Homo sapiens: one gene and its partner. The protein of the gene in region 1 purifies or fractionates together with the protein of each later gene. This does not show direct contact. Each region holds a gene or a part of one and is shown on either strand. Other genes may lie near its edges. The genes, in order: LCP1 and TTL.

The links.
Region 2: the proteins of LCP1 (region 1) and TTL purify together in Homo sapiens (affinity purification with mass spectrometry; 2 studies listed by BioGRID and IntAct, with this or other methods). This does not show direct contact.

The regions. Positions count from the first base shown.
Region 1 is NC_000013.11:46,175,240-46,192,037, reverse strand, and holds the start of LCP1 (plastin-2), read left to right. Parts: upstream 1-9,860; 5' UTR 9,861-9,927; exon of another isoform or gene 9,928-16,798.
Region 2 is NC_000002.12:112,494,727-112,511,243, forward strand, and holds part of TTL (tubulin--tyrosine ligase), read left to right. Parts: intron 1-6,479; coding exon 6,480-6,615; intron 6,616-8,185; coding exon 8,186-8,455; intron 8,456-16,517. UniProt on the Homo sapiens protein: Catalyzes the post-translational addition of a tyrosine to the C-terminal end of detyrosinated alpha-tubulin.

The DNA of each region.
Region 1 (16,798 bases):
TTGAGGAACCTCCATATTCTCCAGAATGGCTATACTAATTTGCACTGAATCCCCACCAACAGTGTACAAGGTTTCCTTTTTTCTCCATATCCTTGCCAATGCTTACCTTCTATCCTTTTGATAATAGCCATCCTAACAGGGGTGAGATGGTATCTCATTGTGATTAAAGCTATACTTCTTCTAAGATGCCTTCCTACCTGGCACCTTACTGTCATTTTGCTTTTGGTACCATATGCATCTTTCTATCAGAGTTTATCACAAGGTATTATAATTATGTTTGGCAACCTCCCTGATTGCAAACTTCCCAAATTTATATGACTGAGTCTTTTAGGTTTGTTTTCTGAGTACCTGGTACATGGTATGATCCTAATAAGAGCTTGAGGAATGAATAAAAATGCAACAAACACATAGAGATATATAGTCATAAAGATTAGTTGACAAATGTGGCATGCAATAAGTGTCAAGAATGTCTTATAAAAAGTACTATAGGCTTTAGCGGGAGAGGAAAGGATAGATTGGTGGTCACGGGAAGATTCTTGGTCAGGCTAGCCTCCTAGCCTGTGCCCAGAAGGGCTTCACACTTGGTTTAATGCTCTGCTGTCACTGTCTAAAAATTCCTAATTTTTAAACAAAGGACTCCACATTTTTATTTTGCACTGGGGGCCACAAATTATGTAGTTGGTTCTGTTCTTGGTTCTAGGAGAGTGATTCAGATTTATAGACAAGGGGAGTGGAGAGACAGGCAGGGAGAGTGAGCACAAAAATCTCACAGGCATAATGAGAAATGTGTGAGGCTTCCAGAGGGTCAAGGACAGGCCAGCCTGAAGACACTAGAGGGCTTACGTTGTTGCTCTGAGGCTTGGAAGATGGATTGAGCCAAAGTTTGGACATTTTTCTAGCAGCAATGAGTAACTTCAGATGCACAGGGAGCAGGAGAATGAAGGGAGAGAACTGTAGCCTTATGAAGAGTCATGTGGTGCTGCTATGCAGGATGGAGAGAGGAGCACTGAGACAAAAAAAAACAGGGAAATCAGGAAGCTAATCCAAATGTGATAAGGCAAAAGTGGCAAAGAAAGAACAAAACCGAGAAATACTATGAGGGAAAAATAAATGAAACTTTGACCACATGTGGGAATTGCAAAAAAAAAAAAAAAAAAAGTAGGACTCAAGGAGTACTCTGGACCATCCTGGGGGTGTAGTCCACTCTTGGCAGAATGAAGGAAGAGATGGGCTAGGGGCAGCTTCTTTGTCAAATGAATGATGAGTTCAGTTTTAGACACTGGAGATTATTATTGGAATTTCAAAATAGACTTGTTTATTTTTCACTTAAATATGAATAACTGTTCATGGAGAAGAGAAATTGGAAAAGGAAAGGATTGTTAACAGTGTCAAATATTGCATAAAAACAAGGACATTGAAGACTGAGTAGAGTCCAGTTTCAGAAGAGTGATGAGAACAGCAGCCCAATAGAGATTCTATGGAAATGAACAAAGGTAGCATTTCTTAAATTCATAATCCTCTTGTCCAAACCACTCCTCCTGAATTCCTCATCTCATTGAATGTTACTACTCTCTACCACCCAGTTTCCCATGCTCCTTCCATTATATTCAATCTCTCTCTTCCTCTATAGTCAATCAGTCTTTTCTTCTCCTTTCTGCCTATCAACTGTCTCTGGAATTCACCCACATATCATTATCCCACTGCCACCATCATCACCTTATGCCCTGCCAAGGCAAAGGCCTCTGGGATGGTCCAGTCTTTATTCTCCCCACTCTTCTTATAGTCCTTGCCATCTTATTCTTCTCACTGGAGCTAGGGGGATTTTTCTAAAACTCAAGTATAATTGTGTCACTTTCCACTTATGACTCTGTTAGGAATTGTGCCCTACCAAAAATATTGAAGTGCTAAATCCAAATGCCTATGAATGTGGCCTTATTTAGAAATAGGGTCTTTGCAGACAATCAAGTTAAGATGAGATCATTAGGATGGGCCCTGATCCAATATGACTGTCATCTTTTTTAAAAAGGGGAAATTTAGATGCAAATGTGTAGATAAAAGCAGAAATTGGGGTGATGCCTTTATAAGCCAAGGATAACAAATGTTGCCAGCAAACCCACCAGAAGCTGGGAGAGACACATGGAATAAATTATCTCTCACAACTCTCAGAAGGAACCAGTCCTACAACACTGTAGTTCCATATTTTTAACTTCAGAACTGTGAGACAATTCATTTTCGTTATTTTAAACCACTCAGTTTTTGGTACTTTGTTAAAACAGCCCTAGAAAGTAAATATGGATCCTAAAATGGCTCCCCATTGCTTGCAGGGTGGTGGTTAATTTTTCATGTGTCAACTTGACTGGGCCATGGAGTGCCCAGATACTTGGTCAAACATTATTCTGGGTGTTTTGGTGACAGTGTTTTTGGGTGATGTTAACATTTAACTTGGTAGACTGAGTTAAGCAAATGGCCCTCCCTAAGGGAGTGGCCCTCATCCAATCAGCTGAAGGCCTGAATAGAGCAAAAAGGTTGACCACCCCTTGAGTAAGAGAGAATTCTTCCTGACTGACTGCCTTTGAGGTGAGACTGGCTTTTTTCTCCCTTTAGACTCAAACTGAAACGCTGGCTCTTCCTGGGTCTCAGGCCTGCCAGCCTTCAGGCTAGAACTACACCACTGGCTCTCCTGGGTCTCCAGCTTGCTGAATCGTCATGAAGATCTTGGGACTTGTCAGCCTCCCTAATCACATGAAGCAATTCCTTGTAATAAATCTCTTTATACATACACATACATGCATACATAAATACATACACACACACACACATACACACACATCCTATTGTTCTGTTTCACTGGAAAACTGATTAATACACAGGGCAAAGCCCAAATTCCTTAACACAGTTAAAAGATCCACTATGACTTGGTCTCTGCAAAATCCTCCAGCTTTTCTCTTTCTCTGCACTTTCCCCCAGCTTCGCTCTCTTGACTGCAGTAGCATCCAGCTTTGGTCATATTTTTGACATACCTTTATTTCTCCCACCTGATCTTTCACACATGCCATTCCTTTATGCTTATAGTACATTTCCACCTTTCCTTTCCATGTCATTCTTCATTAATTTATTCAACAAACATTTCTGAAATGTTGGATATGGTGTTTAGAAGTTAATAAAGCAAACACGGCCCTTGGCCTCATGGAATTCCTAGTAGGAGACACCAATATCAAATGAGGCAATAAGTATACCAGAGATGTCAGCAGTATGTTGGAGACCATGAAATAGGTGATAACACTAGCCTTAACACATATGGAAAAGCTGAATTCTAACCCTATAATGAGAGACGCCAAAGAGAAGTAATTCAAATCCCACCATGGACACTCAGCAAAGCTCAGAACTCCGAGGCACCAGATACCTTTGGAGGCAGAGTGCAAGAGGGACTTGAAAAATAGGAAGATTAGTAGAAAGTTTATATAAGGAGCAGTAAGACATTCCCCACCTTATCCCCACCCACATGTTGCTTTATAAAATAAAAAAAGAAACATTCAGAAAAAAAGAGTTTTTAGCTATTGCTATGGTTTGAATGTCCCCTCCAAAACTCATGTTGAAATTTAATTGCCAATGTGATAGTATTAAGAGGTGAGGCCTTTAAGGGGTGATTGGCCATCAGGGCACTGCCCCATGTAGAATTGATGCCATTATAAGAAAGCAAGTTTATCCCAGTCTTGCTTTCTTGCCTTCTTGCCTTCTGCCACGGGATGAGGCAGCAAGAAGACCCTCATAAGATGCTGGCACCTTATATTGGACTTCCCAGCCTCCAGAACTGTGAGCCAATGAATTTCTGTTTATTATAACTTACCCAGTCTGAGATATTTTGTTATAACAGCACAAAACAGACTACGAGAGAAATTTTGAGGTGAAAGCAGAAATAAAACGTTCAATGGAAGTTTTGAAGAAAATGTAGAAAAATTCTCTCTGACAGTAGAATAGGAAGGCTAAGAGGCAGGAAATGGGAGGAAAAAAAGAAAATTAGAAGATTAATCCAAGAGGCATAACATGCAAATAAATGTAATCCCAGGGAAATAGGGCATAGGAAACAGAGGAAAGGAAATGAGAGATGGAGAGAGAAAATATTTCCCAGAACTGAGAGACTTGAATTTCCCAATTAGAAAAGACCACTGAGTAACTTGCACAGTAGATGAAAACAGACTTACACTAGGACAAATCACCAACAATTTTCAGAACACCTGGCATTAAAAAAAATTCTAAAAATTTTCAGAGAGAAACCAAAAATGATGTGAGAGGGACCATAAGTCAGAATGATATCAGATGTCTCAACAGCAACCTTGGAACCTAGAACACACAGGAACAATCCCTTCCAAATTCTGAGAAAATGATTTCCAGTGTGGATTTCAAAGAATGGAGATCGTTTTCAGCTATAAAATGTCTCAAGAAATTTACGTTCCATAGAACGTTTCTCAAGAATCTACTAGAGGATATGCTCATTAAAACAAGGAAGTAGACAAAGAAAGTGGATGGCATGTGGTCCAGAAATAGGAGATTCAGCCTAGATGGAGAATAAAGGAGTCCCCAGAGTGATGAGGTAGGGAAGCTTCTAGAAGGCAGCTGGGCAGCAGGACCGAACAGAGGAAGGGCCTCTCCAAGGGGGAAACAAGGAATGGATTCATTTCTTGATGTTTTAAATTGAATTTTAGCTCTGTTGGAGAGTTTATACAGAATTAGTAATAAGTACGTAGAAACCTAGCATATCAAAAAAAGATACAAAAACATAATGCAAAATATTCCTAACTCAGTTATGAATATTTTGAGTTACTGTAAAAGCTGAGTATTGATTTAAATAAAAGGGTATTATAAACTGTTCTGGAGGATGATGGGAAGGTTAACATGTATATGTTGGACTGGGGGATGTGAGAGGGTCAAATATTTATCTCTCAAGTAGGAAGGAAAAAATATATGAACATATATATACATATACATAAATATATGTAGGTATCTGAACCCAATCAAGATACACCATAAGCATAACATCTAGAAATATGTAATAAAATAACAGAAGAATTAGCTAAAACTGTTCAAAATACTTGGTTCTAGGGAATGGGAATCAGAGGTGAAGGAGTGTGTCGGGAGACTGGTGTTTCATGAGAAGCCTTGAGGTAATATTTGACTTCTAAAACCAAATACATATATTACTTTGATTAATAAATTAAAGAAAACATATGTCCACACGCACAAAATGTACACAAATGTTAATTGCAGCATTTTTATAATATCAAATAGTAGGCAGCATCCAAATATCCATCAGCTGATGAGTAAATAAAATGTGATATATTCATACAGTGGAATAGCATTCTTCCATAAAAAGGAGTGAAGGTCAGGTGCAGTGGCTCATGTCTGTAATCCCAGCACTTTGGGAGGCCGAGGCAAGAGGATCACCTGAGCCCAGGAATTCGAGACCGGCCTGGCCAACATGACAAGACCCTGTCTCTATAGAAAAAAAAAAAATTTAAATATCCAGGTGTGATGGTGCGTGCCTGTAGACCCAGCTACTCAGGAAGCTGAGGCGGGAGGATGGCTTGAGCCTAGGAGTTCAAGGCCTCAGCAAGCTATAATCACACCACTGCACTTCAGCCTGGGCGACAGAGTGAGCCCCTATCTCAAAATAAATGAATAAATAATAAAATGAAGTAGTGACATGTTACAACATGGATGGACCTTGAAAACATGCTAAGTGAAAGAAGCTCGTCACAAAAGAGCATGTATTGTGTAATTCCCTTTATATGAAATGTCCCGAATAGGCAAATTTATAGAGAGAGAAAATAAACTAGTGGTTGGCTGTGGCTGGGAATTTGGGAGATGGGGGTGAATGGGGAGGAATCTCTAACAGGTACAGAGTTTCTTTTGGGGATGATGAAAATGTTCTGGAATTATATAGTGTAATTGTTGCACAACTCTGTTAAAATACAACAAACCACTGAATTGTATACTTTTTAAAGGTGAATTTTATGGTATGTAAATCATATTGCAATGAAGCCATTATTTTAAAAATTAAAGAAAAAAATTAACAATCATACCTAATTCATAGAGTTGTTGTGAGGAATAAATGAAATAATGGATGTTAGGGGTCTAGTCCAGAGCCTGACGTAAATATTAAGCGATTAGTTAACACGTACATAGGATATACTACGTGCCAGGCACTCTTCTAAGTTCTTTACATATATCAATTCACTTACCCCTTGCAACAACTGTCTAAAATAGACACTGTTCTTACCCCCATTTTATAGACTAGGAAACTGAGGCCAGTGCAAGTAACTAATTTGCCCAAGATCACACAGCTAGTACAACAGTAGAGCTGGAACTTGACCCCAGCCAGCTGGCCCAGCATCTTTACTCTTCACCACTTTGATGCTCCCTCTCTCTGCCTCCCAGGTCCCATGTCTGGGTTAGTGCTGTGTGCTCCTAGGGACGCTGCTTTTCGTCTGTTGTGCTTCCAAGTAGATAACTCTTCACTTGCCTTTTTTCCTTGTCTGTGTCTTCAACTACAGTGGACATTCTACAATGGCAAGGACTGTACCCATCTTAATTCATCTTCATTCCCTGCCCATGATATGTTGGGATGAGGGTGGGCTGCAGAGTGAAGCAAAGGTGTTTTTCTCTTCATACAAATCCCATGAGTGCATGGAGAGGAAGTGGGGAGAGCTGAAGATGCTAGCATTAAGATGCTAGAGAAACACGAGACAATTGATGGAGCAAGATATCTAAGGAAGTAGAATATTAAGAGTGAGATAGTGTTGAAACACTGACCTTGGGAAGAAAGAAGAATGCCGCTTCCATTAAGACTGAAAGAGAGGAGGAAGAGGTGGATATTGTGGAAGTAGAGAGGAAGCTCATACCAGACGACTTGGATCATCTCAGTCAAGAAGGGGCAACAGAAGAATCTTGGGCCAGGACAAAGCATAGGAGGGTGAAGTGGAAGGTTGAGGCAAGAGGAGAGAGTTTAGAATAAATACCCAACTTTTTGGGGTCTGTGATCTCTTTACTAATACAATGGACCCTTCTCCCAGAAAAAAAGTACATACACACAAAATTGTGCATTTAGTTTTAGGGGTCTATGGACTCCAGGTTGAGAATGCCTGTTCTCAAGACTTAGTAAAATTGAATAGAAGTATTTCTGAAAGTAATTTGAAGTCAAGCATCTTGACTTTTTAGCATTCCAAGTTTGTGTTTCTGTGACTTTCCTCAGCAATATTTAGAGGCCTGAGAGTAGCAGGTGATCTGATATCTGGGACTGAGGCCAGAGGCTTCAGGGCAGGAGAGGGTGGGATGAAGTCTGAGAGGGTGGTAGGGCTTAGAGGAAGGCAAAACCCAGGCCAGGAACAGGTGGCAGTGGAGGCTCATAGAGGGTGGGCTGAGAAAGGTCCACTCCGGCTTCAGGCCATAAGGGGGCGCACTGTCTGTACAGAACATAAAAACGTAAGAAAACCAAAAGTCAGTCTTCTGTTTACTAGTACTATGCTGCACAAGCAATTTAAAACACCAACAGCAAAAAAATACACTTCTCTGAAAAAGTCTTGGTCTAGGACCTAAACAATTGCCTGAAACTGGGTAGACTTACACCAATGAGAGGCAGATAAAGAGATTAAGATTGAGGGAGTAGGGCAGGGCTTGCAATGGTGCCGGCCAGGATGTGGCTGAGGGGGTGTGGGTGCCTGCCGTGGATGCTAGGGTAGAAGACGACTCTATTAACTGGGTGGCTGTAAGCAGTACCCAGGTCAATGCCTTTCATCTTCTACAACCTCGACGTTGCCTGGAATCCTAAATCTTTTTCTTCACTTAACAAACATCACCTCTGCTCAAATCTGCAACTGCTTTGATATCACACTGCCTTTTTCACCCCTCTATTATAGATGGCATTTATTTACTTACATGTTTTTTCCCCACTAGACTATACTCCTTGAGAACAGCGATTGTGTCTTATTTATTTCTGAATCACCAATTCAGACAGGCATGCAAACACTTGCTGAACCAATGCACAAATATATTTTGCTCTTCTTCATAGATTCCTCCGGCCTCAGATGACCAGGCACCACTAGATACAGAACACTGTGCTTTCCTTCTCCAAGGTAAAGGAATAAATATCTGTTCCCCTTCATGAAGTGTTACTGTTGGGCCTTTATGCCATCCTGAAGCCACCAGGATGTGGAACCAGATCAGGGAGGTCCACAGTTACAACCCCTTGTATCTGTAACACCAGCAGGACATTATCTACAGAGTCCTGCTGCAGGGCCCCGAATGAAGACAGCATTTTGCTGCTTTGTAGCGTGAGCAGTGCTGTAACAGTGATGCATGGATGTTCCTCTGGTGTCCTGAAAGAATGTAGGTGCTTCTTGAAAGCTCTCTGCAACTTATTAATTGGGAGTGATTATGCGATGGAGAAAACAGAGTCCCATCACCCCCTCAGTCTTCCCTGGGAAATCACAAGAGGGCTGATAGCTCTCTGTGAGGTGAACCGTTTCTAGAATCCCCACCGTCTCGTCCTGTTCTTCCGCCCACCCAGTTCCTCAAGATAGCCCCTGTGGGCTTCTGATGAAGTCACCACACCACTGGCTAATGAAGTAGATAAACCAGAACAGTTTGGTTTAACATTTAAGGTCAGAAACAGGAACTTTCTAGAGGAGAAATCAAAAAAGCAAAAGAAGTATAAGGGCAGCCCTCCAACCAGTCAGAATACCGTGACCACCTGAGAGGCCCGTGGCCCAGCGGACACGGACGCATGTCAACTCTGGAGCAGATATCTTCAGCGCAGCATCTGACCTGGGAGTACAGCCACATACCCTCATTCCTAAACGGCAGATTGACTACTGGAGTCACACACAGTCTCCGGGCAATGTGGAGACATGTCTAATATTTAGTCAACATAACTCAGGGTGCCACAGTCTTCACAACTGTTGTGAGCACTTGAGGATGCTCCATTTGAAGATAGGAATTTGCCCTCAAGCATCTGGGGTTTGGGTACAGAACAGAGCTTCCCCTGCCACCACCTGCTAATTTTATAAAATGTGCATTCAAAAAAAAATCCTGCCTGTAAGAAGGAATTAAGCTACCCATTTAAATATAACAGCTGCCTGTGCAATCTACTGCTGCTCTTTATAGGAAACGCTTAAATAATTGAGATACTTAATTGGGTTAAAGAGATCCCTAGCACATAGATGTTCTATAAATAAAAGAATGAGTAAATAATCTAGTAACCTTCCTTTTCATGTCCTTCACTTAAAGAGATCGTTCTGTTTTGTTTGCACCAATAAGATCACTGTTAGAGGACTCCAGAGAGGTTTGATTTCAGGTGGGGTGGGGCTTTCCCAAGGAAGTCCCTTTTCATTTGTTTCAGGTGTACTGCCACCTTTTTCCCTGGCTCTTTCACTAAAAATGAAAAATTTGTTGATCTTTGCTGTAAGTAGGTAGGCATCTGGGCTTTGCTTTTGCAACTAGAGTCAAAGAAGTCAAGTTATCAGGCTGATCTTGCCTTGCTATCTAGAATCAGAAAGGTTTAAGTAGCCCAGGGACTACTCAAAGACAGCTGGAGGAGAAAGGGAGAGAGAAAAATGCTTATAAAGAGGTGGGCAAAAGAGCGGGACCTTGTCTCAAAAAAAAAAAAAAAAAAGAGGAAGTGGTAGGAGGTGTCTGAATTTCACTGTGACCTGTTCTGTCAGGTGATTTTTGGTGGGGCGGGGACATGAAAAAAAAGTTAAAATGTCCTTATAAAGACAAAATCTTTTTCTTTCCTGGCTGATGATTTGTCATTCTAGTCACTTCCTGCCTTGTGACCACACACCCAGGCTTGACAAAGCTGTTCTGCAGATCAGAAAGAAGGGGTTCCTGGTCATACACCAGTACTACCAAGGACAGCTTTTTTCCTGCAAGGTAAATGTTCTTCATGTGTTTTTGTTGGTTTTAAGCGCTTGTGATGCACTTCGGCACTGTTTCTGTGGATTGTGGGTTTTGCCTTCAGGGGACCAGAGATCTGAGCATGTCACCTGAGACCTCTGTGATTCCTGCCACTGTCTAACTGGCCAGGACATCTGCCGCCACCTCGCGTGGCCATCCAAGATGGAGCACCTCGGCTCTCTGGGCTGGGTTCTTCTCAACTTATCTGCAGTTATCACCCCTGCCCAAAATTAAGGTTTCTTTTTCCTTTTAAAACCAAACCATGTTCTGGTTTATTTCTATTGCTCTATTTCACGGAGGCTATTTACTGTGATTTTATCTTCTTTAAAATGTTTTCAGGAAAAGCGCGTATTGATAATTTAGATTGTATGGCTTATTGGCCCAATGGGGGTAGTTTAATTTTAGTTCCTGCGGTTCTGTTTTTCTAAAAAACTTCTTTACAGTACTTTAGTGGATAAATTATCTAGAGTCATATGTTACTGAATGTGATACTGGTTATTTGAGTGATTTTTGGCGCCAAGGGTTTTTAATGGGTGTGCTTTATAACCACATGGAATTAGAGGTTTTCTCTTTTCCATTTGTTCTCTAAAAATAAAAGCAATTTGTATAATGCTTAATTGTAGTGTTTTTGTAGGATTGTCTGAATTATTTGTTATGCTTATGACCATATCAATGAATATTCACTCAAATTCTGGGAGAAAGGCTTTTATCTACAATAGAAATTTTTACACAGTTGATATGGGATATTTATTTCAGAAACTGCCCAAACATAGACACTTTGGATTTTGTAGTATAAGCTTTTACTTAATTACCACTATCACATAACACTAAGAACCATTGACAAATGATAACTATAAAAGCCATTCAGACTGGAAATGCGAACATTAATCAGGATGTTTATCAAAACCGAACTTTTCTTTTACACAGCAACTTGTTTTCTAAAATTACTCTGTCAGAACTATCAGTAAGCAAATAAAGGTGGCTTATCCACACACATCTTGATTTTGAATTTACATACATTTGTCATAAGTTTGGTTTCTATTAAGTATAATTGTTTAAAGAATGTCTGTGTAGACAAATTTGAATAGAATTAATCATTTACCTATAAATGTGAATTTCTGGAAACTGCAAAATGTGACCACCAATGTTACTTTGCACATCTCACCTGAATAGTTTCAAACAAGCAAAAATGTGAAACTGAGATAAGAGGGACTTGAACCCCGTAAAAGAACAGACTAAAAATATGTTGTGTCTTATTTTAAGTAAAACTATTAATGAGAATAAAATAAATTCGAATGTGAAGGAATGTCAGTATTTTTCTTATATTTACGAAGGAATAAAAAAGAACTATGCGAAAGTTAATTCAAAATATAAAGGTCCCCTGTTTAAAGTTAAGTTTACATTGCTAAAGCATCAACCCCATATGTTACAAAGATATTCCTCTTCATTCTAGCTCACCCCCAGGAACATCAGGGGAAAAATCTTCTAGGTCTTGCCCTTTGAACAAGCACTGCTGTGGTGGGATGGAGTTGTGCCTAGGAGGACATTTCCTTAGCAATCCCAGAGACCCTTTTCTTTGTAGCATTTAAATTTTTGTCTCTTTTGTAAATTATGCCTTGAAACAATTGGTAATTTGGGAAACAATTTCAGTGCTTTAACTTCATTTATAATTCTATCTCTGAACCCTTTGGGGAAGGGAAGACCAACAAGTAAAGTCTCATTTACTTGTTGTTAAAGTACCATTTAACTTGGAGAGGACAGGAAATTAATAATAGCACTCAATAATTATGAGCACGTAGTGTAAGCAGCTACTCTTTATGCATTACCTCGTTTAATCCTCTCAGCTACCTTTAGAGATAAGGAATGGGCTAGATAATTGAAGGAACCGGCCATAGGTCACTGGGCAGTTGGGGTGGGGGGCAGTAGATGGCCAGGATTTCAGGCTCCTACTGACTGTGTGTGTTACAGATCCTCCCTTCCAGGCCAGCATATTTTTCTCAGAGGTAGGTGATTATAGACTTTTATTACTGAAGCTAGCTAACAAGATCTTGGCACTCACAGTTTTAAGAGAGAATAAAAGAGAGAGAGCAAGAGAAAGAAGAGAGAGAGAGAGAGAAGAAAAACTTTGTAATAAATTTACAAACATTTTTATTTTTATAAATAAGAGATACCATTGCAGGTTTTATATAATAATGGGCTGAAGAACTATTTTTAAATTAATGCATAATTTTACTAAAGAATTGTGTGCCTTTACAAACTTGCCTCGACCCACTTCCCCAATCTTATTTCTTGTCACTTCCTTCTGTTCAACCTCCCACTACCCCATCCCCTCCCCCGCCACTGCTAACCCACATTTTGGTGCACCAGACCACAAGCCACCAGAAAGTTCCATTCTCTTTCACCTTTTTTCACTGCAACTGTTTCTTTAATTGCATTCTTCTTTATTTTTAAAACTTCTGATCATTTTTCAAGGCGGACTTCAAGAAACATACCCTTTTGGAGGCCTTCCCATCTTCTCCCTGCCCCCACTAAATGTTTCTTTGGTGTGCATTTGCTCAATGCTTTGATCTTGGAGTAAGTATAACATTAATCACATTGTCTTAGTTTCAAGTACTTATTTGCTGACAGACCTGAGCTCCTTCTCCATCTTTCCTGGCACATGTAGATACTAAAGGCATTTATTGAATTGAAAATTTGTCACAAGTATTTTTTTTCTCAGCTTCTTACATACGCATGAAAGACTTTGATTGTACTTATTAACTTAATATTTACTGAGTTTCCATTTATTGCTATGAATGAAGATGCAACAATAATATAATATTTTGCATTCTACCATGTTTCAGCTTTACCGAAGCCCTAGTCTCATTTTAGCTTCAAAGTATCATATAGACATTGACCTCAAGAAATTTAAAAAATTGTACAATGACTAACAAACAGGGAAAATTACAATCTCATTTTTTTAGTATAAATACATTGGTTGGGCCAAAACTTAGCTACCCTTGCCAAAACTATATACCCAATAATGGGCCTCTTTGATGACAAAGAACACAAGGGCAGTTGTTAACTTTTACTTAGTCACTTTGGATTATTCTCAGAAAATTCTCAAGTCAACTTCTCCTTGTTACCTAAAGAGTACAGGCCCTTCTGTGTATACAGGAGAGATGGCAAGCAACTTTTAAAATCAGCTTAGGTAAAATAAAATTAAGAAATCTGCTTATAAGGTTATACTTATGAAGAGTCAAACACTTATAAAATAAGATTATAAAGGCTTGGACTTTATTACTAATAGTAGATTTTATAGTAGAGTGACATTATTTCAGTTAATCTAATTTTCTTCCTAGTGTTTTTTTATCTGCTAGTTTCCCAACTTACAGATATCAAATGAAATGATACTATTTCATCTGTATACTGAACACTGCAGAAATAAACATTAGAATTAGGACACATCAAAATATAAAACTAATCAGTGTCCACAGATTTGAAGAGTTTCAAGTGTTCCTATTTTGCCAGATGGAAGCGCACTCCTTAAAAAAGTGTTAATGTTCTACAGGGTCTTCATTTTGAGGCTCTCGGAAGTCACCTCCTGATTAGATGTTGGTTTCCTAGGGATATCTCCCTATAGCTGCTGTGGCCGTGGTGTTCCCCAGATGGCATCTCCTTGTTGCTTTCCTCAGTTCCCTTCTGATCCAACTTCCTGCCTTATACTATTGACTGTTCCTGTTGTTTTGGTTTGTCAGTTTCAATGCTTACATCAGTCTGCCCAGAAATTGCATAACTGCTCCATCTTGTAAGATATCGGTGGGGGATGGGGGGGAGTGGAAGGCGCTTCAATTAATCATCCTAATAATAACGTTAATACTTACATTGAATCAGGTGTTTTTCTAAGTGCTTTAACCCTATGAAAGCATTTAGTTGTCATACAGTCCTGTGAGGTAGTGTCTGGTGTCCTCTTCATATTTGAAGGCAAGTTCATTCATTCACGTATTTTATTTAATTTTCTACAATTGGATCAATTTTGTCTTAACTGTTGAATTTCAAGGCAACTTCCTGGAATAAACAGGTAGCAAACCATGGTGCTTATTTGTAACTAAGCCCTCAAGTTGAGCTCAAATAATCATAATACTTCCCCAAATAAATGCATCTATATGATAAGTGCTTTTATAAACAAATTATTCTGTGTCATCATATCATCATCATCATCATTATCATCACCATCAGCAGCAGCAGCAGCAGCAACAGCATCAGTAGTCAGCCCCTCTGTACACTTGACTGAGTAGAAGTTGGTTGTTAACAATTACAGGCCTCTGCATGGGTCACAAAACATGATCTCCACCCTCAAAAACTTTAAAAGGTTCTTAGTCTTTTGTTTGTTTGTTTGTTTGTTTTTTGAGACAGAGTTTCACTCTGTCGCCCAGGCTGGAGTGCAGTGGCGCGATCTCGGCTCACTGAAACCTCTGCCTCCTGGCTCACCCAGGCTGGAGTACAGTTGCGTGATCTCGGCTTACTGAAACCTCCGCCTCCTGGGTTCAAGCGATTCTCCTGCCTCAGCCTCCCGAGTAGCTGGGACTACAGGCGCCCACCACCACGCCCGGCTAATTTTTTGTATTTTTAGTAGAGACGGGTTTCACCTTGTTAGCCAGGACGGTCTCGATCTCCTGACCTCGTGATCTGCCTGCCTCGGCCTCCCAAAGTGCTGGGATTACAGGCGTGAGCCACCGCGCCCGGCCTTTAAAGTTTAGAATAATTTTAGTCAAGTGGCATTCACATTTTCTAGTCTGTTGTGACTGATAGACATGAATAGATTAAACATTCTACTTTTTATACCCAAGTACACATATCTATGATTGTATAGTAATGGCCAAATATAAGTGTCCTAAAAACTGAGAAAGAATGAAACATTGCTTTAAATGTTAGTGGAAGAAGAGAGGTAAAAGTGAACCACTTACTGGGTTTAAGTAAGTTTTGCTCAACTTCAGAGCCATGGCTGTGTCAGCCCCACTTGCAAGTACAAGGAGCCTGTTACTCAAAGATGGTCAGTTGTTCTTTCTGGCGGAAGGAAAAGCTATGTTAAATTGGGGAACTAGCAAACCCACAGTTCTGTGGTTGCAGCATTGATTCTTATTTCAGCATCTGTTACATGGACAGAAGGGAGGGTCTCCCTCCCTCTCTCTCTCTCGCTCTCTCACACACACACACACACACACACACACAAATAAACACACATACACGGAAACACACACACACACTCACTCACACACTCCTTCTTGACTGGATAAGCTAAAGTGAAAAAGAGATTATGTTTTCCATAGCAGAAAAGCTGACACCAAATTCAGCAAGCAGATTAATTATGCATGTGAATTGCAATCTCCCAGATAATTTGCTTTCCTTCTTTTTCTGGTTGCACTTTCTAGAGGGAAGTGAATTAATGGAACAATTACCTTGTATTTAAATAATACCCTGCATTTTGTTTCCTCAGTCTGGTAGTAGTCACTAAAATTTATCCAAGCTATGTATCCAAATGTGTGAAGTAAAAGGATACACAAATGTTATTTGTATAAAATTTGCATATTTTCCCTATTCAGCATTCCTTAGGCAAAGTTTAAAATTAGAAGTGGATCTTTATTAACCTCAGGTGCAACTTTTTTTCCATAAAAACCTTTTATAATAATTCATGAGATTATAATAGATGTGTGTGCATTCAATATAGCTTCCATCCTGAAAATGTTTTTTCAGTTTTTATTTATTTTTAAATTGACATATAACGGTATGTATTTATGGGGTACCTAGTAATGTTTCAATACATACAATGTCTAGTGATGAGATCAGGGTAATCAGCATATCCATCATCTCAAACATTTTTTATTTCTTGTGCTGGAAACATTCAATCGCCTCTCTTCTAGCCATTTTAAAACTATGTACTGTTAACTATAGTTATCCTATAGTGCTATAGAACATGAGAGCTTATTCCTCCTGTCTAGCTATAATTTTGTATCTAAACAAATCTCTCCTATCCTCCACCTTCCCCCTACCCTTCCCAGCCTCTAGTAATCTCAGGTGTAACATTTAAAAAGTAGATCCTTTGTACCTCCTTGACATCATCTGCTCATATCACCCTCACCAGAAAGGCCAGCTTGAACAAAGAAGAGTGGGATATAAATTCTTTATAGAGAAAGCTAGGTAATAGGTGCAAAGTGGGAGTAAGGAAAAAAGAGAAGATCATGCCTGTAGTTTTGCACTGTTGAGCACTCTTTTGTCATCTTAAAAATGCGAACTGAACTTCCCCCACTGTTTCTAATGCTTTATAAACAGTTTTAAAGTTTCCCTTTGAAAATATGGAATATGGTAGGCACCTTGGAAAACTTTGGATTTTTTCCTTTTCTTGCTGTCATTCATGTTGGGACTGTTCCTCAAAATATCATGGATTCTGTTTCTTTTCTGTGACCACTGAGAATGACAGTTGTGATACTTCATCTACCTGGTGATGTTCACACAGTTTTTCTCCTCCCTCCGTACCCACCCTACTGTTCACTGCACGCAGTTCTTCCTCCAGTACCATATCTCCAGTACCAGTTCTTTAAAGCTGAGTGTCTGCAGCTCCCAGGCACAAAAGAGGCAAATGTGGTATAAAGAAAGGGGAGCAAAGGTAGAGACAGATTTGGATTTATATTCTGGGCTCTTGGTAAATGTGGAGGCTGAGCAAGTCTCTGGAGCCTCTGAAGTTCAGTTTCCTCATCTATAAAATCAGGCAAGTGCTATCTACTCGCTAGGTGTGATGTGGGTTATTTTCCCCTTCCATTTTCCCATGTTGTCGTCTAGGTAGATATGGAGCATATCTACTCCACCCAGC
Region 2 (16,517 bases), on another chromosome or scaffold:
CTTAAAACCTAGGATTCATCCTTGACTACTGTATTCTTTACAATCTACTCCTAATGCATTAGCAATTCTTGCTAGCTCTACCTTCAAAATATATTCTGAATAGACTATTTCTTGCCGTTTCCCCTGCTTCCCCTCTAAATCAAAACCCCCATTCTTTTTACTGTGTGTAACTGCCGAGCCTGCTCTCAACCAGTTCTCCTTCCAGACAATAATGTTTTCAAAACGTAAATCTAATCATGTTACTTCCTACTTAAGACTTACCAGCTGGCTTCCTAATGCAATTAGAATGAACTCCGGATTCCTAATGGTAGCCTGCACCATTTGACATTTGCCCATATCTCTGATCTCATCTCCTTCTATCCTCAGCTTTGCTCTCTGCACTGTAGACACAAAGACTGCCTAGTATCTCTCGAATATTCCAAACTTGTCTCTGTACCTAGAATGTGCTTACATGGATTGTTTTGTTTCTCTTACCTCAGTTGCTGGCTCCTCAGGGAAGGCTTTTCTAATCTAAAATAGCCTCCGTGTCCATTGCTTTCTTTCCCTTTCCCCTGCCTCATTTACCTCCTGACATTAACCTTTTCCTGGCACTATACTACTTCTCTGTCCATCTCTCCTATTATTCTGTAGGCTTCACACAAACACAGACATTCTGTCTTATTCATCCTTGTACCTTCCTCATAGGCAGTCAACAAATATATGTTGAATGAATGCATGTAAGGGGTAAGGTTTATAATGTTAACTCAGGCTGAAAATAGAGGCAGTTCCCAATGTAATGAACACATAAACAATCTCTGTCTATGTTAATGCCCTCATACGCTCTTTATAAAACCATTCTGGCTGGGCATAGTGGCTCACTGCCTGTAACCCCATCGCTTTGGGAAGCCGAGGCGGGCGGATCACAAGGTCAGGAGATTGAGACCATCCTGGCTAACACGGTGAAACCCCGTCTCTACTAAAAATACAAAAAATTAGCTGGGTGTGGTGGCGGGTGCCTGTAGTCCCAGCTACTCGGGAGGCTGAGGCAGGAGAATGGCGTGAACCCGGGAAGTGGAGCTTGCAGTAAGCTGAGATCGCACCTTCAGCCTGGGTGACAGAACAAGACTCCTTCTCAAAAATTAAAAAAAAAACCATTCCATTTTGAACTCACTTCTTGTATTGCCTTGGAAGACATCTAGCCATTGGTACTCATTTCTGTTCCGGGTCGAAGGGACCTCACCTTCTTTTCCACCAGCGATGAGACAGGAAGGCCTCAACTGGTATCCCTGAAAGGGGGAGAGTTGGACTCTTGCCACAAGTCAGGTATCTCACCTACTTCTCTCTCCCCTCTTGTGACCTTTTCTCAACTACTGCCCCCTAGTGTGGTTCCAATGGTAAATGACGGATTTGGAAGAGGAAATAGACATCCCTTCTCCTGTGGGTTTGGGATTGGAGTCAGAATGGCCACTGTGAGGACACCTGGTGATCCCTGGACCCTCACTAAGACAAGACTCAGAGGGACACCAAGCAGCAGGGGGAAGTCAAGAGAGAATAAAATGCTAAAGACTTTTTGCTTTAAGAGTTGAAGAGATATATATTTGATATATATTTATTATGTTTGGAAACCATAAAATGAAACCAATAGGATGAATGAATGGTTTTTATTCTTGTTAAACAAGTATTTATTTGGTACCCACTACATGCTTTGTATAGTTGGCTCAACCTTCAAACTCTACCCATTATGAAGCTACTGTTTACCATGTCCACTGCCTATTTCTAATCTAGCCACCTTCACCTCTCACCTGGAGCGTGGGAACACACTACATCTATAACAGAAAATTATTGTTTAGAAACAACCCCATTATTCCACTATTACAGATAACAGTAGTAAATGTCTTTGCTGTAGATGACCCTTGTTTCTTTTTTAATTTTAATTTTTTATTTTATATATATATGTGTCTGTGTGTGTGTGTGTGTGTGTGTGTGTGTGTGTGTGTGTGTGTATTTTTTTTTTTTTTTTGAGACAAGGTCTCACTTTGTTGCCCAGGCTGGAGTGAGATGGCATGATCTCAGTTCACTACAGCCTCGACTTCCTGGGCTCAAGCGATCCTCCCAACTCAACCTCTTTTTTTTGAGACAGAGTCTCACTCTGTCACCCAGGCTGGAGTGCAGTGGTGCCATCTCAGCTCACTGCAAGCTCCGCCTCCCAGGTTCACGCCATTCTCCTGCCTCAGTATCCCGAGTAGCTGGGACTACAGGTACCAGCCACCACACCCGGCTAATTTTTTGTACTTTTAGTTGAGACAGGGTTTCACCACATTAGCCAGGATGGTCTCGATCTCCTGACCTCGTGATCCGCCCGCCTCAGCCTCCCAAAGTGCTGGGATTACAGGCGTGAGCCACCGTGCCCGGGCCCGCTCCCATCTCAAGCTCTTGAGTAGCTGGGACGACAGCCGTGCACCACCACACCCTGTTAATTTTTTGATTTTTAGTAGAGATGAAGTCTCACTGTGTTACCCAGGCTGTTCTTGAACTCCTGAGCTCAAGTGATCTTCCCACCTCAAGCCTCCCGAAGTGCTGGGATTACAGGCATGAGCCATCACACCCAGCCTTGACTCTTGTTTCTTCTTAAAAATTTCATTAGAGTAAGTTTGAAACATGAGATTACTTGGTCAAATGATATGAAGCCTTTATGGCTCTTGCTCTGTGTTATCCTCTTGCTTTTTCAAAGGGCCGTGAGCTAACAGGGAGCAGTTCATGACGAACTTTTACTAAAAGTATCACCATTTTTGTTTTCTTATTTTGTAGGTATAAAACGATACATAAAATTCAAATTTATTTTATAATTTTTGATACTGTTGTATCAAAAAATCTGAGTCTGATTCCTAAGGGAGATGAAACAGCATGAGTCATGTGTGTAGGGGAAGAGAATAAGGGAGCTTTTCCAGGTTGATTTGCAGTTTCTTGTTCAAGAAGCTCACCAGATGGTCGAACAAGTGACAGGAAGAAGATAGTTGAAAAGGGCGTTAACGTTTGGGAAAGGTGGATCATTGAATTAATGAACTGAATTGAATTCATTTATAAAGAAAGCATGAGATCCAGGTAGAAATCAGCTATAAATCTAAAGCATAGATCAGAAGATTCTAGCAAACTGAAACCACAACGAACTGTCACTACACTTTTATTAAAATGGTTATAATAAGAAGTGGTGACAACTCACTAAAGAGTGAGTTCAGCCATGTTACGGGATATGAGAGCAACACACAAAACTTAATCACATTTTTATGTGCCAACAATGAACATGTGGAAACCAAAGTTAAAAACACAAAACTACTTAGCTGGGCGCAGTGGCTCACACCTGTAATCCCAGCACTTTGAGAATCCAAGGCGGGCGGATCACCTGAGGTCAGGAGTTCGAGACCAGTCTGGCTGACTTGCTGAAACCCTGTCTCTATAAAAATACACAAATTAGCCGGGCTTGGTGGCAGTCACCTGTAATCCCTGTTACTCAAGAGGCTGAGGTGGGAGAATCGCTTGAACCCAGGAGGCAGAGGTTGCAGTGAGCTGAGATCGCACCATTGCACTCCAGCTTGGGCAAGAGAGCAAAAATTCCGTCTAAAAAAAAACCAAAAAACTACAGTACTACTTACAGTCACCCTAGAGAAAATGTGATGCTTGGGTATAAATTTAACAAGACATGTATAGGCTCTGTGTGCTAAAAATAGTAAAATGATTATGAAGGAAGTCAAAGAGGACCTAAAGAAATGGACAGACATACCGTGTTCATGGATTGCAGGACAGTATAGTAAAGATGTCAGTTCACCCTAAACTGGTCTATAGGTTTATGTAGTTCTTATCAAAATGTTAGCAACATTTTTGTATAGACATGGAGCTTCTTTTAAAATTTACATGGAGGGGCCGGGCACGGTGGCTCACACTTGTAATCCCAGCACTTTGGGAGGCCAAGGCGGGTGGATCACCGGAGGTCAGGAGTTCGAGACCAGGCTGGCCAACATGGTGAAACCCTGTTCCTACTAAAAAATACAAAAATTAGCCAGGCATGGTGGCGGGCGCCTGTAATCGCAGGTATTTAGGAGGCTGAGGCAGAAGAATCGCTTGGGCCCAGCCTAGGCGACAAGACCAAGACTCCATCTCAATCAATAAATAAATAATAAAAATTCATATGGAAAGGCACAAGCCCTAGAATAGCTTAAACATCTTGAAAAAGAAGAATATAAGTGAACATGCTACCTGATATTAAGATGTATTTTAGAGCTATAGTACTTAATACACTGTAGTATTCATGAAAAAATAGAAACATAAATCAGTGGGGCCAGGCACGGTGGCTCTCGGCTGAAATCCCAGCAGAGGCCAAGGCGGCTGAATCACCTGAGGTCAGGAGTTCGAGACAAGCCTGGCCAACATGGTGAAACCCCATCTCTACTAAGAATACAAAAAAATTAGCCAGGTGTGGTGGCGCATGCCTGTACTTTCAGCTACTCGGGAGGCTGAGGCATGAGAATTGCTTGAACCAGGGGGCAGAGGTTGCTGTGAGCCGAGATCACACCACTGTGTGACAGAGCAAGACTCTGTCTCAAAAACAGAAGAAACATAAATCAGTGGAAGAGAATAGAGAACTCAGAAATAGACCAAAACATATATGCCCATCTGATATTTGAAAAAGGTGCAAAAGCCATTCAATAGAGGAAGGATAAACTTTTCAACAAATTGTACTAGATAAGGTGGATATCAACAGGCAGAAAAATGAACATCAACATAAGCTTCACACCTCATACAAAAACTAACTCAAAATGGATCGTGGACCTAATAATTTTTCAGAAAAAAGGAGATAGGGCTTGGCAAAGAGTTCTTGAGCTTGACTCCAAAAGTGTAATCCATAAAAGTAAAAATTGATAAATTGAACCTCATCAAAATAAAACTTCTGCTCTATGAAACACCTCATTAGAGGATAAAAATGAGTTACAAACTGGGTGAAAGGATTTTTAAGTCATACATATGACAAGGGACTCAGATCTAGAATATGTAAACAACTTTCAAAACTTAACAGTAAACAACAGACACACAATCCAATTAGAAAAAGAGCAAACAGTAAGACCCCAGCTCTACAAAAAAAATACAAAAATTAGCCAATGTGGTGTCACACACCTGCATACGTAGTATTCCTGAGAATTGAAAATATATGTTCATAAAAACTTGTATGCAAATCTTATAGCAGCATTATTCATAAGAGGCAGACAAGAATGGAACCAATGCAAACGTCCATCAATTGATGACTAAATGAACAAAAATGACTTCAGCCATAGAAAGGAGTGAACATGATACTAATACACACTACAATGGGGATGAGCCTTGAAAACTTTGTGCTAAGTGAAATTAGACACAAAAGGCCACATACTGTGTGATTCCATTTATATGAAATGTCCAGATGAGACATCCATAGATACAGAAAGTAGATTAGTGGTTGTCAGAAGCTGGGGTGAGGAGGGAGTAGTGAGTGACTGCTAATAGGTACAAGAGTTTTTTTGGGGGGAGTGGTGAAACCGTTCTAAAATTAAACTGTAGTAGGCCGGGCATGGTGGCTCACACCTGTAATCCCAGCACTTTGGGAGGCCAAGGCAGGCAGATCACGAGGTCAGAAGACCAAGACCATCCTGGCCAACATGGTGAAACCCCATATGTACTAAAAATACAAAAATTAGCCAGGCATGGTGGTGCACGCCTGTAATCCCAGCTACTTGGGAGGCTGAGGCAGGAGAATTGCTTGAACCCAGGAGGCGAAGGTTACAGTGAGCTGAGATTGCGCCACTGCACTCCATCCTGGGCGACAGAGTGAGACTCCATCTCAAAAACAAACAAACAAACAAAGAAATAACAACAAAAACTGTAGTAATGGTTTAAAACTCTTGAATATACTCAAAGCCATTGAACTGTGCACTTTAAAAGGATAAATTTTTTGGTATATGAATTATACTTCAAGCTATTAAAAAGGATATATCAATTATTTAATGTTAATGGACAATTCCAATGTATCCAGTTTTTTCTATTGCAATGCTGCAAGGGACGTACTTGAACATTCATCTTTATGCCTTTATCTTCCTGGTAGTTCTATAAGATATAGTGAAGGAAGGGGATTTATTGTTGTTATAGTCTTTATTGTGGTAGCCAGTGACTAGTAATAGAATGGTATTTATTTTGAGTGCTTAGGCACTACGAATTTCTGTAAAACTGACGTTTCATGGTTGTAGCCAGCCAAGATAGCGTTGACACCTGTATGGAGAAAGAGTTGGTAGGATAATCCTGGGTGCTCTTGAGGGGAGAAGGGAGCATGTGGGGGACTGGAGTAAGGAAGGGAGGGAAAAAGGTGAGCGGGACATTGAAAGCCTCTTGTGGGGTTTTTGCTGTTCGTATTTCCTTTCTGGATTTATAGAGAGCTCTTGGTTTGAATTGGATTGGTTTGTCTTTTGCTTTTTCCCTGTTAGGTGAAGGCATTCTCATCTCCTCAGAGGCTTCAGAGCTTCTCGATTTCATAGACAACCAGGGCCAAGTGCACGTGATCCAGAAATATCTTGAGCACCCTCTGCTGCTTGAGCCAGGTCATCGCAAGTTTGACATCCGGTAATGCATTCATGTCCATAGCTTTTGTTTTTATTCATCTGAAAAAACTGCCATGGTATGTGGTGGGAAGGGGGACATGGAATATGAGGAAGCGTTTGACCATGTTTAATATGTTACCAAAATTGAGCACAGCTGAATGGAACTTACCTTCTGTACCTAATTTTCTATTTTTCTTTCTTGTTTTTTCCATCTAGAAAATGTTACTACGATTATGGATTTTCTTTTTTAAAAAATATTCTTTTCTGGCTGGGCACAGTGGCTCACGCTTGTAATCCCAGCACTTTGGGAGGCCAGGGTGGATGGATCACCTGAGGTCAGGAGTTCGAGACCAGCCTGGCCAACATGGTGAAACCCCGTCTCTAGTAAAAATACAAAATTAGCCAGGCATGGTGGCAGGCACCTGTAATCCCATCTACTCAGGAGGCTGAGGAAGGAGAATCACTTGAACCAGGGAGGGGAGGTTGCAGTGAGCTGAGATTGCACCATTGCACTCCAGCCTGGGTAACAGAGTGAGACTCCTGTGTCAAAAAAAAAAAAAAAAAAATCTTTTCTATAAAAATGACTTGTGGATTCAAAGAAATGAATATAAATGTATGGTCTTGCTCATGGAATAAACTGAGAGATGTGCATGGAACACGTAATTCAGACACAACAGGTTGTGCAACCTTGCCAAATAATTTCTCCTCACTTCATTGTTTGTGTCCCACTCTGTGGATTTTATGACCACACCTCAGGGGATTTTAAGTTTCTGAGCAAAGGGCTTGGCATGGAGAAAGAGGTTGTGTGGTGCATTCTAAAGCTAAACAGCCCTCCCTCTCCAACTTACCCTTGGCCTTGCTGTCAGCTCATTGCCAAGGACTCTGTCTCCTTGATTGCTTCATAACGATTTGTCGCTTCTTGAACATCAACATAGGTCAGATCATCTTCAGGAGGAACACTCTTTAAGATTACTCAAAGAGGAGACATAACAAATGGAGGTTTCATAGGTTAACCTTAAAATCCAACCCATCCAGGGCTTGGTGTGGTGGCTCATGCCTGTAATCCCAGCACTTTGAGAGGCCAAGGTGGGTGGATCACCTGATGTCAGTATTTTGAGACCAGCCTGGCTAACATGGTGAAACCCTGTCTCTACAAAAAATACAAAAATCACCCGGGCGTGGTGGCATGCGCCTGTAATCCCAGCTACTGAGGAGGCTGAGGCAGGAGAATTGCTTGAACCCGGAAGGCGGAGGTTGCAGTGAGCCGAGATCACACCATTGCACTCCAGCCTGGGCAACAAAAGCAAAACTCCATCTCAAAAAAAAAAAAAAAATCATCTGATTTTTTTATCTTTTGATCAAATTTCCCTGTTATTTATGGTAAAATGTTTTGTTTGCCTCATTGTAGTGATAACTCACTATCTTAGCTAAATCATAACATGCCTCTTATAGTTTTAGAAACTTCCTCCTTCCCTAGTTGCCTCCCACTCCTTACCTACCCCATAAAAGAAGTCAAGATGTGGGGATTGATGTATATAATATGCAGAAACTTTGGATGACTTGAGTAAAGCAGTGTTTTTGTTGAATTGCAGAAGCTGGGTCTTGGTGGATCATCAGTATAATATCTACCTCTATAGAGAGGGTGTGCTTCGGACTGCTTCAGAACCATATCATGTTGATAATTTCCAAGACAAAACCTGCCATTTGACCAATCACTGCATTCAAAAAGAGTATTCAAAGAACTACGGGAAGTATGAAGAAGGAAATGAAATGTTCTTCAAGGAGTTCAATCAGTACCTAACAAGTGCTTTGAACATTACCCTAGAAAGTAGTATCTTACTACAAATCAAACATATAATAAGGTAACTTAATTGTATCTTTTTGGATTACGTGTTTCTTCTTGAAGGAGCTTTGGCGTCTATGCCTTTCAAAGAATTGTTTCATATAAGTTGTCTAATTTATGGTCAAAAATTTTTTGTAATATTCCTTTATTTTCCTTTTAATGTCTGCAGGTTCTGTAATGATGTCTCCTCTTTCGTTTCTGATAATGGTTATATGTGTGTGTGTATGTGTGTGTGTGTGTGTATATATATATATATATTTATATATTTATTTATTTATTTATTTTTTTGAGACAGAGTTTTGCTCTTGTTGCCCAGGCTGGAGTGCAATGGTGCGATCTCGGCTCACCACAACCTCTACCTCCTGGGTTCAAGTGATTCTCCTGCCTCAGCCTCCCAAGTAGCTGGGATTACAGGCATGTGCCACCACGCTGGGCTAATTTTGTACTTTTAGTAGAGACAGGGTTTCTCCATGTTGGTCAGTCTGGTCTTGAACTCTTTTTTTTTTTTTTTTTTTTAATCAATAGTTTTCTTTATCATAGATTCAAAATTTTAAGCTTATTTTCCTTCCATTCTTTAGGCATTCAACACGTTGATGAAAAGTACAATGTCAGTCTACTTCTCATTCTTTTATCCGTAAACTTCTTTTTTTTTTTTTTTTTTTTATTATACTCTAAGTTTTAGGGTACATGTGCACATTGTGCAGGTTAGTTACATATGTATACATGTGCCATGCTGGTGCGCTGCACCCACTAATGTGTCATCTAGCATTAGGTATATCTCCCAATGCTATCCCTCCCCCCTCCCCCGACCCCACCACAGTCCCCAGAGTGTGATATTCCCCTTCCTGTGTCCATGTGATCTCATTGTTCAGTTCCCACCTATGAGTGAGAATATGCGGTGTTTGGTTTTTTGTTCTTGCGATAGTTTACTGAGAATGATGGTTTCCAATTTCATCCATGTCCCTACAAAGGATATGAACTCATCATTTTTTATGGCTGCATAGTATTCCATGGTGTATATATGCCACATTTTCTTAATCCAGTCTATCATTGTTGGACATTTGGGTTGGTTCCAAGTCTTTGCTATTGTGAATAGTGCCGCAATAAACATACGTGTGCATGTGTCTTTATAGCAGCATGATTTATACTCATTTGGGTATATACCCAGTAATGGGATGGCTGGGTCAAATGGTATTTCTAGTTCTAGATCCCTGAGGAATCGCCACACTGACTTCCACAATGGTTGAACTAGTTTACAGTCCCACCAACAGTGTAAAAGTGTTCCTATTTCTCCGCATCCTCTCCAGCACCTGTTGTTTCCTGACTTTTTAATGATTGCCATTCTAACTGGTGTGAGATGATATCTCATAGTGGTTTTGATTTGCATTTCTCTGATGGCCAGTGATGATGAGCATTTCTTCATGTGTTTTTTGGCTGCATAAATGTCTTCTTTTGAGAAGTCTCTGTTCATGTCCTTCGCCCACTTTTTGATGGGGTTGTTTGTTTTTTTCTTGTAAATTTGTTTGAGTTCATTGTAGATTCTGGATATTAGCCCTTTGTCAGATGAGTAGGTTGCGAAAATTTTCTCCCATGTTGTAGGTTGCCTGTTCACTCTGATGGTAGTTTCTTTTGCTGTGCAGAAGCTCTTTAGTTTAATGAGATCCCATTTGTCAATTTTGGCTTTTGTTGCCATTGCTTTTGGTGTTTTGGACATGAAGTCCTTGCCCACGCCTATGTCCTGAATGGTAATGCCTAGGTTTTCTTCTAGGGTTTTTATGGTTTTAGGTTTAACGTTTAAATCTTTAATCCATCTTGAATTGATTTTTGTATAAGGTGTAAGGAAGGGATCCAGTTTCAGCTTTCTACATATGGCTAGCCAGTTTTCCCAGCACCATTTATTAAATAGGGAATCCTTTCCCCATTGCTTGTTTTTCTCAGGTTTGTCAAAGATCAGATAGTTGTAGATATGCGGCATTATTTCTGAGGGCTCTGTTCTGTTCCATTGATCTATATCTCTGTTTTGGTACCAGTACCATGCTGTTTTGGTTACTGTAGCCTTGTAGTATAGTTTGAAGTCAGGTAGTGTGATGCCTCCAGCTTTGTTCTTTTGGCTTAGGATTGACTTGGCGATGCGGGCTCTTTTTTGGTTCCATATGAACTTTAAAGTAGTTTTTTCCAATTCTGTGAAGAAAGTCATTGGTAGCTTGATGGGGATGGCATTGAATCTGTAAATTACCTTGGGCAGTATGGCCATTTTCACGATATTGATTCTTCCTACCCATGAGCATGGAATGTTCTTCCATTTGTTTGTGTCCTCTTTTATTTCCTTGAGCAGTGGTTTGTAGTTCTCCTTGAAGAGGTCCTTCACATCCCTTATAAGTTGGATTCCTAGGTATTTTATTCTCTTTGAAGCAATTGTGAATGGGAGTTCACCCATGATTTGGCTCTCTGTTTGTCTGTTGTTGGTGTATAAGAATGCTTGTGATTTTTGTACATTGATTTTGTATCCTGAGACTTTGCTGAAGTTGCTTATCAGCTTAAGGAGATTTTGGGCTGAGACGATGGGGTTTTCTAGATAAACAATCATGTCGTCTGCAAACAGGGACAATTTGACTTCCTCTTTTCCTAATTGAATACCCTTTATTTCCTTCTCCTGCCTGATTGCCCTGGCCAGAACTTCCAATACTATGTTGAATAGGAGCGGTGAGAGAGGGCATCCCTGTCTTGTGCCAGTTTTCAAAGGGAATGCTTCCAGTTTTTGCCCATTCAGTATGATATTGGCTGTGGGTTTGTCATAGATAGCTCTTATTATTTTGAAATACGTCCCATCAATACCTAATTTATTGAGAGTTTTTAGCATGAAGGGTTGTTGAATTTTGTCAAAGGCTTTTTCTGCATCTATTGAGATAATCATGTGGTTTTTGTCTTTGGCTCTGTTTATATGCTGGATTACATTTATTGATTTGCGTATATTGAACCAGCCTTGCATCCCAGGGATGAAGCCCACTTGATCATGGTGGATAAGCTTTTTGATGTGCTGCTGGATTCGGTTTGCCAGTATTTTATTGAGGATTTTTGCATCAATGTTCATCAAGGATATTGGTCTAAAATTCTCTTTTTTGGTTGTGTCTCTGCCCGGCTTTGGTATCAGAATGATGCTGGCCTCATAAAATGAGTTAGGGAGGATTCCCTCTTTTTCTATTGATTGGAATAGTTTCAGAAGGAATGGTACCAGTTCCTCCTTGTACCTCTGGTAGAATTCGGCTGTGAATCCATCTGGTCCTGGACTCTTTTTGGTTGGTAAACTATTGATTATTGCCACAATTTCAGAGCCTGTTATTGGTCTATTCAGAGATTCAACTTCTTCCTGGTTTAGTCTTGGGAGAGTGTATGTGTCGAGGAATGTATCCATTTCTTCTAGATTTTCTAGTTTATTTGCGTAGAGGTGTTTGTAGTATTCTCTGATGGTAGTTTGTATTTCTGTGGGATCGGTGGTGATATCCCCTTTATCATTTTTTATTGTGTCTATTTGATTCTTCTCTCTTTTTTTCTTTATTAGTCTTGCTAGCGGTCTATCAATTTTGTTGATCCTTTGAAAAAACCAGCTCCTGGATTCATTGATTTTTTGAAGGGTTTTTTGTGTCTCTATTTCCTTCAGTTCTGCTCTGATTTTAGTTATTTCTTGCCTTCTGCTAGCTTTTGAATGTGTTTGCTCTTGCTTTTCTAGTTCTTTTAATTGTGATGTTAGGTGTCAATTTTGGATCTTTCCTGCTTTCTCTTGTAGGCATTTAGTGCTATAAATTTCCCTCTACACACTGCTTTGAATGCGTCCCAGAGATTCTGGTATGTGGTGTCTTTGTTCTCATTGGTTTCAAAGAACATCTTTATTTCTGCCTTCATTTCGTTATGTACCCAGTAGTCATTCAGGAGCAGGTTGTTCAGTTTCCATGTAGTTGAGTGGCTTTGAGTGAGATTCTTAATCCTGAGTTCTAGTTTGATTGCACTGTGGTCTGAGAGATAGTTTGTTATAATTTCTGTTCTTTTACATTTGCTGAGGAGAGCTTTACTTCCAACTATGTGGTCAATTTTGGAATAGGTGTGGTGTGGTGCTGAAAAAAATGTATATTCTGTTGATTTGGGGTGGAGAGTTCTGTAGATGTCTATTAGGTCTGCTTGGTGCAGAGCTGAGTTCAATTCCTGGGTATCCTTGTTGACTTTCTGTCTCGTTGATCTGTCTAATGTTGACAGTGGGGTGTTAAAGTCTCCCATTATTAATGTGTGGGAGTCTAAGTCTCTTTGTAGGTCACTGAGGACTTGCTTTATGAATCTGGGTGCTCCTGTATTGGGTGCATAAATATTTAGGATAGTTAGCTCCTCTTGTTGAATTGATCCCTTTACCATTATGTAATGGCCTTCTTTGTCTCTTTTGATCTTTGTTGATTTAAAGTCTGTTTTATCAGAGACTAGGATTGCAGCCCCTGCCTTTTTTTGTTTTCCATTGGCTTGGTAGATCTTCCTCCATCCTTTTATTTTGAGCCTATGTGTGTCTCTGCACGTGAGATGGGTTTCCTGAATACAGCACACTGATGGGTCTTGACTCTATCCAACTTGCCAGTCTGTGTCTTTTAATTGCAGAATTTAGTCCATTTATATTTAAAGTTAATATTGTTATGTGTGAATTTGATCCTGTCATTATGATGTTAGCTGGTGATTTTGCTCATTAGTTGATGCAGTTTCTTCCTAGTCTCGATGGTCTTTACATTTTGGCATGATTTTGCAGTGGCTGGTACCGGTTGTTCCTTTCCATGTTTAGCGCTTCCTTCAGGAGCTCTTTTAGGGCAGGCCTGGTGGTGACAAAATCTCTCAGCATTTGCTTGTCTATAAAGTATTTTATTTCTCCTTCACTTATGAAGCTTAGTTTGGCTGGATATGAAATTCTGGGTTGAAAATTCTTTTCTTTAAGAATGTTGAATATTGGCCCCCACTCTCTTCTGGCTTGTAGGGTTTCTGCCGAGAGATCCGCTGTTAGTCTGATGGGCTTTCCTTTGAGGGTAACCTGACCTTTCTCTCTGGCTGCCCTTAACATTTTTTCCTTCATTTCAACTTTGGTGAATCTGACAATTATGTGTCTTGGAGTTGCTCTTCTCGAGGAGTATCTTTGTGGCGTTCTCTGTATTTCCTGAATCTGAACGTTGGCCTGCCTTGCTAGATTGGGGAAGTTCTCCTGGATAATATCCTGCAGAGTGTTTTCCAACTTGGTTCCATTCTCCACATCACTTTCAGGTACACCAATCAGACGTAGATTTGGTCTTTTCACATAGTCCCATATTTCTTGGAGGCTTTGCTCATTTCTTTTTATTCTTTTTTCTCTAAACTTCCCTTCTCGCTTCATTTCATTCATTTCATCTTCCATTGCTGATACCCTTTCTTCCAGTTGATCGCATCGGCTCCTGAGGCTTCTGCATTCTTCACGTAGTTCTCGAGCCTTGGTTTTCAGCTCCATCAGCTCCTTTAAGCACTTCTCTGTATTGGTTATTCTAGTTATACATTCTTCTAAATTTTTTTCAAAGTTTTGAACTTCTTTGCCTTTGGTTTGAATGTCCTCCCGTAGCTCAGAGTAATTTGATCGTCTGAAGCCTTCTTCTCTCAGCTCGTCAAAATCATTCTCCATCCAGCTTTGTTCTGTTGCTGGTGAGGAACTGCGTTCCTTTGGAGGAGGAGAGGCGCTCTGCGTTTTAGAGTTTCCAGTTTTTCTGTTCTGTTTTTTCCCCATCTTTGTGGTTTTATCTACTTTTGGTCTTTGATGATGGTGATGTACAGATGGGTTTTCGGTGTAGATGTCCTTTCTGGTTGTTAGTTTTCCTTCTAACAGACAGGACCCTCAGCTGCAGGTCTGTTGGAATACCCTGCTGTGTGAGGTGTCAGTGTGCCCCTGCTTGGGGGTGCCTCCCAGTTAGGCTGCTCGGGGGTCAGGGGTCAGGGACTCACTTGAGGAGGCAGTCTGCCCGTTCTCAGATCTCCAGCTGCGTGCTGGGAGAACCACTGCTCTCTTCAAAGCTGTCAGACAGGGACACTTAAGTCTGCAGAGGTTACTGCTGTCTTTTTGTTTGTCTGTGCCCTGCCCCCAGAGGTGGAGCCTACAGAGGCAGGCAGGCCTCCTTGAGCTGTGGTGGGCTCCACCCAGTTCGAGCTTCCTGGCTGCTTTGTTTACCTAATCAAGCCTGGGCAATGGCCGGCGCCCCTCCCCCAGCCTCGTTGCTGCCTTGTAGTTTGATCTCAGACTGCTGTGCTAGCAATCAGCGAGACTCCGTGGGCGTAGGACCCTCTGAGCCAGGTGTGGGATATAATCTCATGGTGCGCCGTTTCTTAAGCCGGTCTGAAAAGCGCAATATTCGGGTGGGAGTGACCCGATTTTCCAGGTGCGTCTGTCACCCCTTTCTTTGACTCGGAAAGGGAACTCCCTGACCCCTTGCGCTTCCCAGGTGAGGCAATGCCTCGCCCTGCTTCGGCTCGCGCACGGTGCGCACACACACTGGCCTGCGCCCACTGTCTGGCACTCCCTAGTGAGATGAACCCGGTAAGGTACCTCAGATGGAAATGCAGAAATCACCCGTCTTCTGCGTCGCTCACGCTGGGAGCTGTAGACCGGAGCTGTTCCTATTCGGCCATCTTGGCTCCTCCTCCTGGTCTTGAACTCTTGACTTCAGGTGATCTACCCCCCTCGGCCTCCCAAAGTGCTGGGATTACAGGCGTAAGCCACCATGCCTGGCTAATTTATATTTTCCCTCTATTTTGCTTGGACAGATTGACTAAACATTTATCAATTTTATCAGTCTTTTCAAAAAATTAGCTTTTGGTTTTATTGGTTTTCTCTGTTGTTTTTCTTTTCAGCTTCTTTGATTTATGCACTTTATCATTCTCTTCCTTTTGCTTTTTGGAGGATATAATTTACTCTTTTTCTAGTTGTGCTTTTTGTTTGTTTTTTAAGAGATGGTGTCTCATTTTATTGCCTAGGCTGGAGTACAAGTGTGATCATAGCTCACTGCTGCTTCAAACTTTTAGGCTCAAGGGATCTTCCTGTCTCAGCCTCCCAAGTAGCTGGGACTACAGGTATACACCACTGTGCCTGGCTAATTTTTTTATTTTTTGTAGAATTGGGTCTCACTGTCTTGCCCAGGCTGGTTTCAAGCTCCTGGGCTCAAGCAGCCCTCCCATCTTGATCTCCCAGAGTGCTGGGATTATAGGTGTGAGCCACCATGCCCAGCCTATTCCAGTTTTTAAGGTGAAAGTTTAAATAATTGATTTGAGATATTTCTTTTTTTTTTTGAGATAGAATTTTGTTCTTATTGCCCAGGCTGGAGTGCAATGGCACGATCTCGGCTCACTGCAACCTCCATCTCCTGGGTTCAAGCGATTCTCCTGCCTCAGCCTCCCGTGTAGCTGGGATTACAGGCATGTGCCACCATGCCTGGCTAATTTTGTATTTTTAGGAGACACGGGGTTTCTCCATGTTGGTCAGGATGGTTGAGATATTTCTTTTTTAAAAAAATAAAAGCATGTCTCAGTTTCCCTTTATCAGTTTCCCTCTAAATATTGCATTAGCAGAATCCCACAGATTTTGCTGTTTTCATTTCCATTTTATTAAAATATTTTCTAATTTCCCTTATAATTTTATCTTTGATTCATGTGATTTAGAAATTTTTGTTTAATATCCAGATATTAGGTCAGGAAGAGACTTTGTCTGGTTTCATCTTTAAAAGTTGCTAAGGTTTGTTCCATAGCCCAGAAGGTCTTTTAATGTTCTATGTGCACTAACAGAATGTGTACTTGGCTATAATTGGGCAGAGTGTTGTTTTTTATTTTTATGTTTTTTGAGACAAGGTCTTACTTTGTTTCCCAGGCTGGAATGCAGTGGCACAAACATGGTTTGCTGCAGCCTTAACCTCCTGGGCTCAAGCGTAAGTAGCCTAGGTAGCTGGGACTACAGGTGCATGCCACCAAACCCACCTGATTTTTGTATTTTTTTTGTAGAGACAGGGTTTTGCCCTGTTGCCCAAGCTGGTCTCGAACTCTTGGGCTCA